Linked DNA regions of Homo sapiens. The protein of the gene in region 1 interacts with the protein of each later gene in a biochemical or structural test. Each region holds a gene or a part of one and is shown on either strand. Other genes may lie near its edges.

The links.
Region 2: of the proteins of USP30 (region 1) and PAICS, one has a biochemical effect on the other in vitro, tested with the Homo sapiens proteins (one study listed by BioGRID).

The regions. Positions count from the first base shown.
Region 1 is NC_000012.12:109,048,197-109,055,604, reverse strand, and holds the start of USP30 (ubiquitin carboxyl-terminal hydrolase 30), read right to left. Parts: upstream 3,030-7,408; 5' UTR 2,927-3,029; coding exon 2,844-2,926; intron 2,824-2,843; exon of another isoform or gene 1,568-2,823; coding exon of another isoform or gene 1,563-1,567; intron 1,100-1,562; exon of another isoform or gene 813-1,099; intron 1-812. UniProt on the Homo sapiens protein: Deubiquitinating enzyme tethered to the mitochondrial outer membrane that acts as a key inhibitor of mitophagy by counteracting the action of parkin (PRKN): hydrolyzes ubiquitin attached by parkin on target proteins, such as RHOT1/MIRO1 and TOMM20, thereby blocking parkin's ability to drive mitophagy.
Region 2 is NC_000004.12:56,460,220-56,465,078, forward strand, and holds the end of PAICS (bifunctional phosphoribosylaminoimidazole carboxylase/phosphoribosylaminoimidazole succinocarboxamide synthetase), read left to right. Parts: 3' UTR 1-4,359; downstream 4,360-4,859. UniProt on the Homo sapiens protein: Bifunctional phosphoribosylaminoimidazole carboxylase and phosphoribosylaminoimidazole succinocarboxamide synthetase catalyzing two reactions of the de novo purine biosynthetic pathway.

The DNA of each region.
Region 1 (7,408 bases):
AACACGGTGAAACCCTGTCTCTACTAAAAATACAAAAATTAGCTGGGTGTGGTGGCAGGTGCCTGTAATCCCAGCTACTCTGGAGGCCGAGGCAGAATGGCTTGAGTCCAAGAGGCGGAGGTTACAGTGAGCCCAGATTGCGCCACTGCACTCCAGCCTGGGTGACTGAGCGAGACTCTGCCTCAAAAAAAAAAAAAAAAAAAATATATATATATATATATATATGTATATATATGTGTGTGTGTATATATATATAAAATATTTATTGAATGACTGAATACTGGAGAAAATATACAGAAATGAATTTCTCTTTTAGAATATTAGACAGGGAAGGGGCACACATACAATGGTATAAAAGAGCTGAATATTTATAAAATTAAAGATTTCCTAACTTCAGGCTTGACTTGAACGCTGGTTATGCTTTTGCTACATATTAAGAAATTTCCCCAACAATTTAAAACATTGTTTTTATACAAAGTTATATATTTCTACAAAATAAGACAAACCATCTATGTGTATATAGCTATGTAATGTGTATCTGCATATATGTTACACATGCATACATACGTGTTTGTGTGTGTGTGTGTGTAATACATTATTATCCCAGTATTTGGATCATGTGAATATTGTTTTGATTTCAGTTCAGTAAACATTAACTTGGTGAAGAGTCACTGGTGGTAATATTGACCCTGTTTTATAATAATCAGCATTTCTTAGTATCATAGCTGATAGCTGAATTTCAGATAAATATTTGTTTTCCAAGACAGAGTCAACAGAATATGCACCAAACTTGGTTAAGAAAGTGGGATTACCTTATTCTGGTTCAATCCTGGCTTTGCTATTTCATTTGGCATCACTTCACCTTCTAAGCCTCAGTTTCCTCATCTGTACAATGGGGACAATCCATAAGACCTACCTCATAGGGCTGTTGTGAGGATTAAATAAGTGTGAATGCATACAGTACATAGTAAGAACTTAATAAATGTTAGCTGCTACAAATTAAGCATTACAATCTCAGGATCATTCATGAAAGCTATTCTTTCTTTTTTTCTTATTTTTATTTTTATTTTTTTTTGAGACAGTGTCTTGCTCTAGTTGCTCTAGTGCCCAGGCTGGAGTGCAGTGGTGCCATCTCAGCTCAACACAATCTTCACCTTCCGGGCTCAGGTGATCCTCCTGCCTCAGCCTCCCAAGTAGCTGGGACCACAGCTGCACACCACATGCCCAGGTAATTTTTAAATTTTTTTGTAGAGACAGGGTCTCACTACATTGCCCAGGCTGGTCTCGAACTCCTGAGCTCAAGAAATCCACCTGCCTCAGCCTTCCAAAGAGCTGGGATTACAGGTGTGAGCCACCATGCCCAGCTGGTGAAAGGTATTCTTGAAGTTTCTTAATACATCACTGTGCTTTTACACGATACGTGAGTTCACAAAAGTGCCTGGAAAGATTATAAAGGACTGTCATGGAAGTGCTAAGGTGCTTTACCAGTGCTTTAAAATCCCCTAATCAAACACTAATATTTAAGGGTACATACTCTCTGCCAGGCCCTGTGACAATCTTACCTCATTTTTAAAACAACCCCACAGATGCAGGTTCTACTATCACTTTCATTTTTATAGCAGAAGAAACTAAGAGCCCAACTTGGTCACAGTGAGTGAAGGAACATGGCTCTGAATCATGCCTGTCTGTCTCCCCAGGTCTGTGCTTAAAACCACGAAGTTCAAGATGGAAACTGAAGGGAAGAGTGTCAAGGGGATGGGAGAGAGGACTTGTCCATGACTTTGGCAGCATAAGGAAAAAATACCCAGGGACAAGTGGCGACTTTGGAAACTCCATTCCTCTGCAAAATGACATCACGAGGAGAGTGGTGGGGCCTGCGGATGAAAAGATCTGGCTTCTCCTCCCAACTCTGCTATGAGGTCAGCTATGGGGCCACACTTCCTATCTACGGAATGGGGGCACTGGACAGGATAAGTATCGAGGACTTTCAGCCCTGGGATAATAAGCTCTTTAAACCTGCTCCAGTTCCAGAGGAAGCCGACCTGAGCAACAGGTCTCAGTCATTTGGGGTCAGCAGTGGGGGAGGGGGTACTCAGTTCTGAAGCCTGGAGCCCTTGGGAGGGTGAATAAGAGGGAAATGGGGGCCCTGACAGGATTGGGGACCCAGGCAATCGAGGAGTCCTAACAAGAACGGAGGGCTTTAACAGGACCAAGCAACCTTAACAGGTTAAAGGGGCCCTGACCAATTTAGAGACCCTTGCAAAACAAGGGCCTTTACTCACACTAACAACATCAGGGACCCAGACAGAAGTGGCGATCCATATTAGACTAGAGGGCGGGCTAACAGGAATAGGGGGCGGTACTAACAAAACGCGGGGCTCGCAGGCCCGGGGCACTTATAGGACTAGAAGAACCGTGCCAAGGTTGGGGAACCCTGGCAGTCCAGAAACTGATATGATTGGGGGACCCAGAAGGACTGGGGGTATACTAGAAGGATTGAGGGGTCTTGGCAGGCCTAGGAGGCACTGAAAGGACTGAGGGCACTGACAGAATTAGGGGCCTTGACAAGACTGGAGTGCCCCGGGTGTCCTGGGAACAATGACAGGAGGGGGAGGGACTGACAGACCTGGGGAGTGCAGACAGAATTGGTGTTGCCGAAGGACTGGAGCCCGTCAGTCCTCCCACCTACGGGCCCAGGCCTCCAACCCTAAAGGACGCAGAACCTTCCAGAATGCCCGCGCGGGCCCTGGAGACCCCAACTAGGGCATGAAAAAGCCGTCACGGGCCCAAGCTGGGGACCCTGGTCCCGGCCTCTTCGGCAGCCCCGCCCCCCAAAATCTCACCTGACGGCCGCCCCGGTCCGCAGGAAGCGCTGGATGGCCCTGTCGGCCGCGGTCATCGCCGCCTCGGCCCGGGAGCTCAGCATTGCAGCCGCACCGGAGGCCTGAAACCGTCTCCTCCGCTACCGCCGCCGCCGCCGCCGGACCGAGGGATACGACGGTTCCCGAGACAGCGGAACCTGCGGCCGCAGTCCCAGCACCTCGGGGGAACGTAGACCGCAGGACAGCTCCCAGGGGGACCGGAAGTAGCTGCCCCCGGAGAGCAATAGCTGACGGACCACGTCCTTTCTTTCTTTTCCCTTAGCAACAGGCCCCGGCGTCGGTTGCTACGCTGGGCTCAGTTGCCTGGGGCTGCTTGGTTTTCAGATTTGCTTAGGCTCCATTCATAAATACAGATGGCACACTTCTAGGATGGACCCTGGGTCATGATTTGAATTTTTCGATGTGGGGAAGGGAGGCCAACAGCCGAAAGTCGGGTCAGGCCTCTGCTATAATTAGTTATTATTGTGGCCAGAGTGGAAATAGGTCGCAGAGGAAGGAACTTTAATGAGCATGAGGCCCATCTCTGACGATATCAGTAGAGAAATCAACGTCTTTAATAGCCAACAAACTTATTGTTTACTTGGGTGCCAGGTATAGAGCTAAGTATGTTACATTCATTATTTACATTTAATATTCACACCAACTCTAACATTACCCACATTTTACATCCCAGGGAACCCAGGAAATTTGAAGAAATAGTAAGTTTTTTGACGCAGCTTGTAAGTGGTGAAACAGAGATTGGCAGTTCGGTCTGTCTGTCTCCAGAATGGCACTCTCCAACAGAAATATACAGGAGCCACATAGGTAATTTTACATTTTCCAGTAGCCACATTAAAGTGAAAAGCAGGAGGTAGGCCAGACGCCGTGGCTCACGCCTGTAATCCCAGCACTTTGGGAGAACGAGGCTGGTGGATCACCTGAGGTCAAGAGTTCGAGACCAGCTTGGCCAACATGGTGAAACCCCATCTCTACTAAAAATACAAAAATTAGCCGGGCGTGGTGGCAGGCTCCTGTAATTCCAGCTACTCAGGAGGCTGAGGCAGGAGAATTGCTTGAACCGTGGTGGTGGAGGTTGCACTGAGCCAAGATCATGCCACTGCATTCCAGCCTGGGTGACAGAACCAGACTCCATCTCAAAAAAAAAAAAAAAGAGGTCAGGTGCGATGGCTCATACTTGTAATCCCAGCACTTTGGGAGGCCGGGGGGTGGGGGTGGGGGGCACGGATTGCTTGAGGTCAGGAGTTCGAGACCAGCATGGCCAATATGGTGAAACCCCGTCTCTACTAAAAAATACAAAAATCAGCCAGGTGTGGTGGCGCGTGCCTGTAATCCCAGCTACTCGGGAGGCTGAGGCGGGAGAATCGCTAGAACCTGGGAGGCGGAGGCTGCAGTGAGCTGAGATCACACCACTGCACTCCAGCCTGGGCAACAGAGAGAGATTCAGCATCAAAAAAAAAAAAAAAAAAAAAAAAAGCAAGAGGTAAAATTAATTTTAACCATATTTTTTCCTTGACCCAATATGTTCAAAATATTGGGGCAGGTGCAGTGGCTTATGCCTATAATCCCAGCACTTTGGGAGGCCAGGTGAGAGGATGGCTTCAGGCCCAGAGTCCAAGGCCACCTGGGCAACATAGCAAGAACCCATGGCTACCGAAAAACAAAGAAAAGAAAAACAAAATATGTCATTTCTATGTGAAAATTATTGATGAGATAATTTACATTCTTTTTTTTTTGAGATGGAGTCTTGCTCTGCCGCCCAGGCTGCAGTGCAATGGCACGATCTCGCCTCTCAGGTTCAAGCGATTATCCTGCCTCAGCCTCCTGAGTAGCTGGGATTACAGGTGCACACCACCACGCCCGGCTAATTTTTTTGTATTTTTAGTAGAGACGGGGTTTCACCATGTTGGTCAGGCTGCTTGAACTCCTGACCTCGTGATCCATCCGCCTCGGGCTCCCAAAGTGTTGGGATTACAGGTGTGAGCCACCGCGCCCGGCCCATTATTTTTTTGTTTTTTGGTACTAAGTACCTCTCAGTTTGGAGTACCCACTTTTCATGTGCTCAATAGCCCCAAGTGGCCAGCAGCTACCGTATTGGACAGCACAGTTTATAAAGCATTAGAGCCAGCAAGATTTTTCCCTCCCTTTCAATCGCTTTCTCCGACTCCAGACTGAGTAATTGCATTCATGCTGGGGGTGGTGTCGCATACCTGTAGCCCCAACTACAGAAACAAAACAAAAGAAATCAATGCATTAGATCAGTAGTTCTCAAAGTTTTTGTTCTCCGGATCTCTTTGTACGCTTAAAAAGGATTGAGGGATTTTGTTTATATCTAACTGTACTCTGTTAGAAATTAAAATTGAGAATTTTTGTTTCCTTAAAATTGAGGTATATAGGTATATCTTGTTTTTTTGTTGTTGTTGTTTGTTTTTGAGATGGAGGCTCGCTCTGTGGCCCAGGCTGGAGTGCAGTGGCGTGATCTCAGCTCACTGCAAGCTCCGCCTCCCGGGTTCAAGTGATTCTCCTGTCTCAGCCTCCCGAGTAGCTGGGACTACAGGCTCCCGCCACCACGCCCAGTTAATTTTTGTATTTTTAGTAGAGACAGGGTTTCACCATATTGGCCAGGCTGCTCTTGAACTCCTGACCTTGTGATCCACCCACCTTGGCCTCCCAAAGTTCTGGGATTACAGGTGTGAGCCACCGTGCCCCGCCCGGCATATCTTGTTTTATTGCACTTCACTTTATTGTGCTTCGAAGATACTGCATTTTTACAAGTTCAAGGTTTGTGGCTACCTGACTACAGCAAGTCTATTGGCACCATTTTCAACAGCATGTGCTCACTTCGTGTCTCTGTACCACATCCTGGTAATTCTTGTAATATTTCAAACTTTTTTTTTTCTTTTCTTTTTTGCAATAATGCCTCACTCTGTCATGCAGGCTGGAGTGCAGTGGCGCAATCTTGGCTCACTGCAACCTCCACCTCCTGGGGTTCAAGCGATTTTCGTGCCTCAGCCACCCAAATAGCTGGAATTACAGGCACGCGCCACCATGCCTGGCTAATTTTAGCGTTTTTAGTAGAGATGGGGTTCCACTGTGTTGGCCAGGCTGGTTTCGAACTCCTGACCTCAGGAGATATGCTTGCCCTGGCCTCCCAAAGTGCTGGGATTACAGGCGTGAGCCACCGTGCCTGGTCCCAAAGTTTTTCATTATTATTACACCTATTAAGGTGATCTGTGATCAGTGATCCTTAATGTTACTATTGTAATTGTTTTGGGGTGCCACAAACAGCATTCAGGTAAACCAGCCAACTTAATCGGTATTGTGTATGTTCCAAGTGCTCCACTGACTGGCTGTTCCCCCCTCTCTCTCACTCTTCTCAGGTCTCCCTAGCCTGTAAGACACAACAATATTGAATTTCAGTCCACGCCTCTAAATGTTCGAGGGATAGGAAGAGTCGCACATCTCTCACTTTAAATCAAAAGCTAGAAATGATTAAGCTCAGTGAGGAAGGTGTGTCAAAAGTCAGGATAGGCTGAAAGCAAGACTTCTTGCACCAAACATTTAGTCAAGTTGTGAATTCAAAGGAAAATTTCCTGAAGGAAATTAAAAGTGCTACTCCAGTGAGCAGAATGTAAACTAAAAATCCTAAGCCCCGCCAACTGACTGAATGGGCCCCCTCTTGGCCAAGGGGACCTTCAAGAAACCTTAAACACTGAGTTCCCAGCCATAATGAGATGAGAGGTCAGACATGCCTCCTTATACCCTCTTCCTTAGAAGTTTAGACACAACAGCTGACCAGCCTTAATGTTGAAACAGTGATCATAAGACAGACAGAATGGACTGTTTGTGGCAATAAGATACCAAATTATAAACAGGATCTAAGGTCATGCCAAGCAAGGATTGCGTTACACACCCCTGCACTTAAAGAATAAACTGTTTTACATCCGGTTTTTCTTTTTCTTTCTTTTTTTGTTTTTTTTTTTTTTGAGACAGAGTCTCACTCTGTTGCCCAGGCTGGAGTGCAGTAGGGCGATCTTGGCTCACTACAACCTCCACCTCCCAGGTTCAAGCCATTCTCCTGCCTTAGCCTCCTGAGTAGCTGGGACTTCAGGTGCGTGCCACCACGCCTGGCTAATTTTTGTATTTTTAGTAGAGATGGGGTTTCGCCATGTTGGCCAGGCTGGTCTCGAACTCCTGACCTCAGGTGAATCAAGATACGGAATCACCACTGCCCACAAGTGACCCCCTGGCCCTTGGTACTCACCCCCCTCCACCCCCCTTCAACCCCTGGCAATCACTGATGGAAACAGAAATATTTAAAACCCAACAATACTGAAGCAGGCCAGGCGCGATGGCTCACACCTATAATCCCGGCACTTTGGGTGACTGAGGGTGAGTGGACCCCTTGAACCCAGGAGTCTGAGACGAGTCTGGGCAACATGGTGAAACCCTGTCTCTACAAAAATACAAAATTTAGCTGGGTTTGGTGGCACACACCTCTAGTCCCAGCTACTTGGGAGGCTGAGGTG
Region 2 (4,859 bases), on another chromosome or scaffold:
TCTGTCCCATGGGCACTCATGAAAAAACAGAATGCTCCCAACTTTATTCATCTTCCAAGCCTGTAGCTCTTGGTATACTCACTGTTGCAAGTCAGAAGCTTGATTTCATCATTGATGTTTTTCTCACGTTTCACATCTCACTCATCACCAAGTCATGTTGGTGTTAATTTCTGATTAACCCTTGAATTTACCGTCTTCTCATCCTCTGTACAAAAGCCTCAAGTGAGGGTCAAATTCAACATTATCCTGATCTAGACAGCCCCCATTCTCAATCCACCCTTTTCCAAGTTGATTGCCCAAGGACTTCTAACAATAAACTCTCTTTTGCACCACAGACTTCTTTGAAAATATACATGCTGTTGACCCTCTCTGTAGAAAACCGCACACATAAAACTTACCAACAGATTTCATTGGTTCTTGGGTTCTCCCGAAGCCTATCCATGGTTTATAGATTAAGAATTGATGAGGTAGCTGGGCACAGTGGCTCACACCTACGATCACAGCACTTCGGGAGGCTGAAGCAAGCAGATCACTTGAGGTCAGGAGTTTGAGACCAGCCTGGCCAACATGGTGAAACCCTGTCTCTACTAAAAATACAAAAAGTAGCCAGCCGTGATGACAGGCACCTGTAATCCCAGCTACTCGGGAGGCTGAGGCATGAGAATTGCTTGAACCCGGGAGGCGGAGGTTGCAGTGAGCCTAGATCATGCCACTGCACTCCAACCTGGGCAGCAGAGCAAGACTCTGTCTCAAAAGGGGAAAAAAAAAATTGCTGATGTGACCCATGAAGGGAACTCATTTTCCTCGTAATTTTGGACTGCCACACATTGGTACCTTTAGTTCTCTGAAGGCCCACGTTTTTATCATTAAGACCTATTTGTTAGCTAGTAGAGCTTTATGTTCGCTGTCCATGAAACCTTCTGTAACCACAGTGACTACAAGTAGTTCTTTCTCTATTGAATTATTAGGTCCAGAATAGAAGATGTCATTGTACACTTTATTTCCCTCACACTGTGTTATGCTCTGATGTGCTATGCTTAGCTATCTGTCAGAGATTAGTAAATTATAAAACTCATGTGTACTACTTAAGTTTATATCTTATGCTAGTTTATAAGAACAATTAAAAGGACTTAGAAGATTAACTTTGGTTTCATGGTCTCTGAAGTCACTGACTGCTATTTCAGCTTGTTTACCCTTACCTAGCATTAAGACTCCATCTACTTCTGTGCAGTATATGAAAATTTTTAAACTTTCATTTAGACTGGTGGATAGGACTGACCATTACAAATTGTCGTTATCAATTTTTTTTCCTTTTTTTTTTTAAGAGCCAAGTTCTCACTGTCTCCCAGGCTGGAGTGCAGTGGCATGATTATGGCTCCCTGCAGCCTTGAACTCCTGGACTCAAGCTGCAGCCTCTCGAGTAGCTGGGTGCATGTGCTACCACACCCAATTATGAATTTCATCATTAGTTTCTTAGTAGAGTCCACATGTCCTCAGTAGTAAGTTCATCAGTGCTAAATATTTGAAGGTATTTCTACTGTTTTGTAAAAGTAACTTAAGCCTACCTGGTCTGCTATCTTTTGAGTATTTATACTTTCTACGGGCTTGTAGGTAAACATAAAAAGAGAAAAAATATCCCAATAATACAGTTTTTAACCTTTTATGATAAAGACATGCTTAGAATTGCTGTTAAGCTTTCTGAGATTTAACCACTGAAACTAAGTAAAAGACAAAGCACTTAGGTAAAGCTTCATTCAGTATCCATTCACCCAATACTGGTTTGATTCTAGGGCCTAGGAAAATAGGACTGAGCAAAGCCCTTGTCCAGATGGAACTTATGTTTTAGAGGGGAAAACAAACCATAAAAAGGTAAACAGTATAAAATCAGGAAAGGATAAATGTATATGAAGAATCAAAATGAGGACGGTGATGGGGATAAGAGGGGAAGGTTTTTGAGGAGAGCAGAGCAATGATGTAAAAGCAAGACACACAGATAGGGAAATAGCTTTCCATACTAAGGGAATGGGAAATAAAGCTGAGTTTTGCCTTGAGGACCTCCAAACATGAGAATTGCTAGAGCTCTGTGAACAAGGATGAGAGTGGAAGACAATATAAGCAAAGGCTACATCACTTAGGGCCTATAGGCCACACTGAAGTGTGACAGGAAAAACTCAGTTTGAGCAGAGGCTTGACATACTTAACATATTTAAAGGTTCTCTGGCTGTTGTGTGGACAAGAGGAGAAGCAGAGATTAGTTAAGAGGCTATTGTAGCCCAGGTGAGGGATGATGTATGATCTTCAACATGTCTAATTTTTTTGTGCCTCAATTTCATGAAATGAAAATGCGACTAATACCACCTCATAAAGTTGTGAGAATTACATGAGTCAATATATGTAAGGCCCATCATGGCACACAAATGTGTTATGTAATATCCATTTGGCAGACTGAAGAACAACAGTATGAATGGAATTCATTCACCATGAGAATTACCTGGAATTCTCTGGGCATGGTAGCTCATGCCTGTAATCCCAGCACTTTGGGTGGCCGAGGCAGGTGGATCACCTGAGATCAGGAGTTCGAGACCAGCCTGACCAACATGGAGAAACCCAGTCTCTAATAAAAATACAAAACTAGCCGGGCATGGTGGCACATTCCTGTAATCCCAGCGACTCAGGAGGCTGAGGCAGGAGAATCGCTTGAACCTGGGAAGCGGAGGTTGTGGTGAGCCGAGGTTGCGCCATTGTACTCCAGCCTGGGCAACAAGAGCAAAACTCTGTTTCAAAAAAAAAGAAAGAAAGAAAATTACCTGGAATTCAATATTGCCATCGGCTGATTTAATTTCTAATATGAAGAAAGGGGCAGTGTGATGTGCCACGGAGCATCCACAACCTGCCATTTCAGCCCAGCCAACCTTAGAAAGCCATTGAAAAGAGTTGTTTTTAATGGTGTTTTTACATCCAGCTTCCCACACCTCAAATACTTGGGGTGGAATTGTTAATCTCACATTGCAGTACAATGAAAATAGTGGAATGGAAATCAAGTTATAAAATGGAGCTAAATATTTCTTCTGCTTGCCTCTGAGTTGATAAGATACCATAAGATACTGTACATGAGGCTGGGCGCGGTGGCTCACGTCTTATTTCTTCTGCTTGCCTCTGAGTTGACAAGATACCATAAGATACTGTACATGAGGCTGGGTGCAGTGGCTCACGCCTGTAATCCCAGCACTTTGGGAGGGTGAGGTGGGCAGATCACCTGAGGTCGGGAGTTCAAGACCAGCCTGACTGACATGGAGAAACCCCCTCTTTACTAAAAATACAAAATTAGCCAGGCATGGTGGTGCATGCCTATAATTCCAACTACTCGGGAGGCTGAGGCAGGAGAATCGCTTGAACCTGGAAGGCAGAGGTTGTGGTGAGCTGAGATCGAACCATTGCACTCCAGCCTGGGCAACAAGAGCGAAAATCTGTCGCCAAAAAAAAAAAAAAAAAGATACTGTACATGGAAGCTTCTCAGGCTAAATCCATTAATATAAAAATACATTGTGGATACTGATGAGATGGCTAATTCTGTCAACTTGACTAGGCTACGGGATGCCTTGATAGCTGGTCAAACAACATTTCTAGGTACATCTGTGATGGTGTTTCTGGAAGAGACTAGCACTTGAATCAGTAGACTTGAGTAAAGAAGACTGCCTTCACCCATGTGGGTGAGCGTCATCTAATCCATTGAGGGCCTGAATAGAACAAAAAAGGGGAAGAAGGGTGAACTGCTGGGACATCCATTTCGTGCCCCCAGATGTTGGTGCTCCTGGTCCTCAGGCCTTCAGACTAGGACTTAACGTTATTGCCTCCCCTGATTCTCAAGCCCTCGGGTTTGGAACTACACTGGCTTTCCTGGGCCTTCAGCCTGCAGAAGGCAGACTGTGGGACTTCACCTCCATTTTGCAGAGCCAATTTCTCATAATCTGTACATATCCTATTGGTTCTGTATTTTTTAGAGAACAAATACAGCCTATTATGTATATATAAGACCCTGGGAATGCAAAGATGAACAAAATTAACCTTCTGCTCTCAATGAATCTTGGAAGTCTCCAGAGGCAGACAATTTCAAAACACCGTATATAGTCTTAATATGGAATTAACAATAGGGTATTGTGAATACACAAAAGTAGGAAGGACTCTGATCTCTAGAAAACAATTGTATACTGTGAATGAAAAAGACTAATTCTCCACAGTCTATACTCAATCTCTCTTACCTTTCCATAATTTTCTTCAGCAAACTTATTACCACCAAACATAGTACATGTTTATTTATTACCCATCTCTCCCAACTAGAAAATAAATGTATTACACTGGGCTGTCTTCTTTGTTGTCAGCTGTATCACAGCAACTGGTGTAATACACGGCACTGGCATATACAAGACAAACACTTGTCAGATGAATAAAAATGCAAATTCCAGGAGGTAGGGGGACACATAACTACATGGAAGTTAGAGGTGAATAGCATGCAAGGGGGCTAGGAAATAAGTATAGAGACCTATGTGAGTTGGGGAGGTGGCAAGCAGAGGCCAGATCACAAAAGCTCTTACTGCTCTTCTTTGGAGTTCGGATTTTATCGTGAGGGTAGGAAAGTGGCATCAGATACATGCTTTAAGAGATCAGTCTGGTTTTTTTCCCACCATGTGAAAACAGAAGATGCCATCTATGAATCAGAGTGGCCCCTCACCAGACAATCTTTCCATCCTTCACAATGTGAGATGTAAATTTGTTATTTAAAAAAAAAAAAACAAAACACCACTATGGTTTGGAAGATTCCTGTTTCAAAAATGGCAGGTTAAGCCCCATATTTATAGGCT